2 separate regions of the Homo sapiens genome follow, and region 1 is linked to region 2. The links come from fine-mapping of genetic effects on gene expression. Tissue or cell type: sun-exposed skin. Region 2 holds a variant in brackets; the other region holds the start of a gene. All regions are shown on one strand. Distances are between the middles of the regions.

Evidence for each region. PIP is the estimated chance that this variant, and not a neighbour inherited with it, causes the effect.
Region 1: it holds the start of LINC03125, and the variant in region 2 is fine-mapped to the expression of LINC03125 in sun-exposed skin (GTEx, PIP 0.98).

What each region holds. Positions count from the first base shown.
Region 1 is chr20:23,146,845-23,149,527 of GRCh38, reverse strand. It overlaps LINC03125 (long intergenic non-protein coding RNA 3125), which reads right to left and starts at 1,425. Exons shown (of 6, transcript NR_199692.1): 1 at 1,114-1,425. RefSeq lists an enhancer at 777-1,976.
Region 2 is chr20:23,095,602-23,098,284 of GRCh38, reverse strand. No RefSeq gene overlaps it. Among named protein-coding and RNA genes, the nearest start is that of CD93, 11 kb to the right of the region's middle. RefSeq lists an enhancer at 1,997-2,146. The variant C/A (reference allele first, on the strand shown) is at 1,099.

The DNA of each region.
Region 1 (2,683 bases), 51 kb before region 2:
GGGACACTGGTGCCCTCCCCCAAATACCCTTCAGGTGGTGCCTGCACTCAGGCTGAGGAGGAGGATGTCACGGTGTAGGTGCAGGGAAGGGTGCTATCAGGAAGCACAGCTGTGTCCACCACAGCTGGGGGCCACGGGCCTGCACCTCCACACAGGTGTTGGCTGCTGCAGCCTGGGATGGTCCTCTCTCTCCAGCCCCAGGTCCCTGTGGCTGGGCCATAGGAGTCGCTCAGAAGACTTCATCCCAAACTCACAACTACCATCCTCATCTGAACCTTTGGAAGTCATGAAAATGTGGAAGCACTGGCTGGAAGTTAGCAAGCAGGTTATTATCGAGGCAATGGCTTATGCCGTCTTCCTGGGACCTCCATGTGGAGGAAGCCGGGGCTGCAGCAAGACCTCTGTCTTCGCCCTCGCTGTGGGTCTTGGATCTCACCAGAGCAGGAATCCTTTCAGACCATGGTTTCCTGGCTTATTTGTTTTGTAAAAAATCTGCTAAAGAGGGACTAAGAAGATGTGAAAGCCACATCCACGTATTTTAAAAGTTGCACATATTTTAAAAGTTGCACATAGAACAGGGAGGAGCTTGTCCTGTGTATCCCAGAGGATAAAGCTAGGGACAAGGGTGCTCTGTGTGTGTATGTGTGTGTGTGTGTGTGTGTGTGTGTGTTGTTTTGTTTGTGGTTCTCTGTGTCATCCCCATAGGATTTGAGAATGAGGGGAAGTAAAGGAAAACAAAGGAACACTTTAGATTGTCCTCTTGAAAACTCATGGATTTCCAAGCACTGTGCTAGAAGCTGCCACATCAGCATCTTCTGGGAACTTGTTAGAAAGGGAAATTCTTGGGCCCACCTCAAACCCACTGATTCTCATACATGCTCAGGTATGAGAATCACTCTTCTAAATATAGGAAAAGATCTTTCTAACAGATATCATTGACCAAAGTTGCAGTGCCTTTCCTCATGAGGTGGTGAGTGCTACTCTTCTGGAAGCATTCAAGAGAAGGAGTAACCATTAGTCACGCATGTTGCAAAGGAAGTGAACACAACAGGTACAGAGTTCAACTGAAGTCACTTCCTTGGTTGCTCAGTATTTTAGCAAACATTTACTGACCAGCAGTACTGGGCACTGTTCACAGTGACAGGCGACAGGAATAGAAATCCACAGAAGCTCCCCGTTCTTGCCTGCTCCGAAGACTGAAGTCCAGCAGTCTCTCATGCTGTGGGCCCAGACACTGCTCTCTGTCTTGACTGCCAAACCCTGGCTGGCCAAGTGACGATTCACCATCCTTACAACATACTCCAGTCACTGAAGATTCCCCACGGAACCACCACCTTCCTGCTCAGGCCTCTTCATCTATCCAACAGGAGGAGGGGAAAGAGACCATTGACCCAGGACTGCCCTGGCGTGCATGAAGCCCTGAGTGAGGGCTGTGGCAACTTCCCGGCCTGCACACACTGCTGCTGCTTTCTTGGTGCCTATGAGTCATGCCTTGTCACCCGTGTGACATTAATCACTCAGTGGGACTCAGAAATCCAGCAGATGAATTCTGAAACTGAGTTGGGGAGGAGGCCAAATGTCTCATCGTGAGATGAGTCCCAGGGTACAGTCTCGGACAGATGAATATTCTAGATTACAAGGCTTAGCACTTTAACCAGAGAATAAATACAGACTGTGGTTGTTTCCATGTATTTAAAAAAAGTAAATTATGACACAAGTGATGCACATTTGTTCGGGGAAAGTTACAGTACAGATGGGCAAAACCAAAGAAAAAAGTGCATCAGTTCCCCTAAACTCCACCACCCAGAAACAATTGCTATTAACAGGAGGACGTGGTTTACTTCCAATGCTTTTCTGGGCACATATGTAAGTGTGTGTGTGTGGCAGTGCAACCGTGGAATCGCATTGTAAGACTTGACCCTAACACAGCTTTCCATTTAAAGTATATTGTGAATACGTTTCTACGTCAATACATTTAAATGATCAATTTTAAAGCTATCTAGCCCTCTACTGGCATCAATGCAAATTTTCCTCAGATTGTATCACGTTTAAAAAGTTTTTCTAAGATACACCACACACTCTCCTGCCTTCCCTTCCTGTTTTCTAATCCAAGTACAGAAACATGACATTGCTTGTTTCTAGGTGCCTTGGGGTCGCTGTTATTCAGTGAACCCCTCAGGATGTAAAGTTTCAATAAAGAAGCAGTTTGGTAGAGACAAAAGAGCTCCAGATTAGAAATCAGGATAGCTCTGGGCCCCTGTGCACTCAGGCTCCACATGGTTATGCACAGAACCTTCAGAACCTTCAGATTCATCACTAGCAGGATGGGTCCAGGGCGTGGGTCTTTGCTATGAGATCACCTTAGGTACCTCTGGAGGAGCTGGTCACACCAGTGATAACCCTTTGGAGAGGAGAAAGTCAATGGAGGAGGAGAAGACATGCCTCAGAATCACACCCCAGTTGTTGCTTGAAGTGTGGTCAAGGAGCTGCTTATCTCCACCCACACCTCCTCCTGGACACACAAAGGATATACATTCCTGGGCCCAGTTCAGCTCTTCCAAATTGGAACCTTTGTGGGTGAAGCACAAATAACATGCTTTTAAACAAGTACCCCTGAAGTTTGTCACAGAAAGTTGAGCTCATTGCTCCACTCCTAAAATGTCATTTCTCTTAAACATCTGAA
Region 2 (2,683 bases):
AAAGGACAGGCCTGATGTGGACAGGCACATCTGTGAGGCCGCGAGATGGGGCAGTAGGAGACATGTGGGGAGTGGATGCAACCGAGCAGCGGTGAGTTGGGCAGGAGAGAGACAGGGCCCAGGAGGGAACCCTGTGGAGGCCAGAGCAGGGAAGAGGCCCAGGGAATGTGGACCACCTGGTGCCCACACACTGGACACTTCCAGGAGGGATGCCTGAGGGTCAGGGAGCAGAGGACTGATGGGGCCCATGTGGTTGGCCTGCAGAGGTCAGAGGAGGCCGACGTGAAAGCAGCCCCAGGACACCAGAGAGGCAGAAAGGACAGCCATGAATGAAGAAGTGGGCAGATGGAAAGCAGTGGGGGTGAATGCACGTGCTGAGAGCCTGGCTGCAGCAGGAGGAGAGAACTGGGCTGTGCTGGCCTGGACCTCAGCTTTGCCAGATCCTTGCACGGGTCCAGGAGCCTCCTCCATGACCCGTGCAAGGATCTGGCAAAGCTGAGGCTGGACCTGGCCTGTGGCTGAGCTCCCCTGCCCTGGGCTGAGGAGAGCATTAGTTTGAGTGAAGTGCCTACTGTATCTGTTTCTTTAGGAATCAGGTTGCTGTATTACAGGGAGATGTCGACAGTAACCCTCAACCAGAGCAGGGCTGCTTTCCAGCTGCCCCCATATCCTTGATGCTTTTATTTGGTATACGAGTTGTGCAGTTTCCTAATACTACTGTGGTTCTGTAGCCCCTCCAACCTGCCCATCACTTGAGACTGAGTTGAATGGAAATGTGTTTTATAATCTTCTGTGCAATAAATTGGTTTTGCAGTGTGGCAACCCAACTCGTGAAAGTGCTTATCATTTTCAATTATAATTTTTTAGCTCAGAGATAAATTATTAAAGCACAGCAAAATTGTTCCTGAAGATAACATGCTCACATGGTAATTACTCAGGTAAAATGCTGGTAGTCCCCGGGCATTCTGGCTTTGCCTTTCTTAGGAAACCATGCAGAACTATCTCTGTATGACGCAGCAGTGTCACGTTTTATCCTGAGTAGGCAAAAGATGCAGCCTGCTCCCATTGTGGGTCTGAAACAGCTTCTGCAAGTTGGAG[C/A]CTGAAGTGACCCAGTATCTCACCCTGCATTTGCCGCCCACTTTGTTCCCACGGGAAACAGGAAGGTGAGGGTGCCAGTGCATGGGTGTAGATGCCAGGTTTCCCGACTGCTCCAGCGTGTCTGCCTTGCCCTGGCCATGCCATCTACTGCTGCTCGCTTCATTGGACCCCAACGTACGGTGCTAGCTGTTGGAGTATGAACAACCAGAAAAATAAAGGCCAGTCTTCCCCAGGTATGGTTGTCAGCTGTTCTGAGCCACCACCTGGAATATCTGCAGGTGGAAGTAGCCACTGAGCTGCTTCCCTCAGTGTCAGTGCCCGCGAAGGAAGGCTACTCTTTCACCAGAAACAGTTCAGCTAGAAGACTCTTCTGTCTTCCAATATGAGTGGGTGGGAGTGTGGGAGAGCAGAATTTGGCCCTAGAACTGTTGTGTAGATATGAATCTGATTCAGCAAACAGACCAAAGCTCTGCAGGCCTGAGAGGGGCTTCAGGGCCTCTGGGTCAGCTCTTGTGTCAAAGAATGAAATTTTTAGGACTCAGAAGTCTGGAGAAAATGCTTTTGGCTGCAAGTAACAACCAAAGTATAACTGCTCAAACAATTAAGAATGAGAATAATTTCATATAAGAAGTCTCAGGTGGGATCATTTCAGGTTTGGTGAATCCCACAGTTCCAGGAGGCTTTTGGGGACCCGAGCTCCTGCCCTCTTTTTGCCACCTTTCTGAGCCAGCTTGTCCTGACCACAGCAGCTTTGCACACCAGCCCTCAGAAGATCACTCAGAGGACAGGCTGGCCATTTCTCCAGTCTCTGTTTAAGAGCAAGGGGGACTTTCCCAGAAGCATATGGAACTTTCCCTTATGCCACATGGGCCAGTCTGTGTCCCTCCTGAGCCAGGTCCCTCCTGAGCCAGGTGTCAGCTGGGGACAGAAATGTCATCATTGCTCAGATCTGTCAGGGTTGTCCCCTGAATAGGGGAGTCTCCCAGCACGTCCCAACGCTTACTAGCATCAGGTGCACAGTGGAGCTGGTCTTAAGAAGAATAAGGGAGAGTAACAGTTGTAGAGTCTTCAAGAATTCATAAGATGTTACAATTAGAAGGACCCTCCCTGCTTTATAAAGAGGAGAGATGTCCAATATTTTGGCTTCCCTGGGTCACACTGGAAGAAGAATTATCTTGGGCCACACATAAAATACACTAACACTAACGATAGTGATGAGCTAAAAAAAAATCACCAAAAAAATCTCATAGTGTTTTGAGAAAGTTTATGAATTTGTGTTGGACTGCATTCAAAGCCATCCTGGGCCTCATGGGCCCTTGAGCTGTAGGTTGGACAAGCTTGGTATAGGGAGAATCCTGGATAGTTCCCAGCTAACTTTCATTTGAAGAACTGTCATGACTTTCGATAGAAGATGCATAGGCTATTGTGTTATAGGTATTTAGTGATGTTGAGGCTCCCAGGGCTGCAGGAGCCAGCCTGGCGGCACTAAGGAGGAAGCTAATGCAGGCACTGATTGCCACGTTGGGCTGGTTGCCAGCATTGCAAGACACTTTGATTTTTTTTTTTTTTTAGAAAAGCCAGAAAT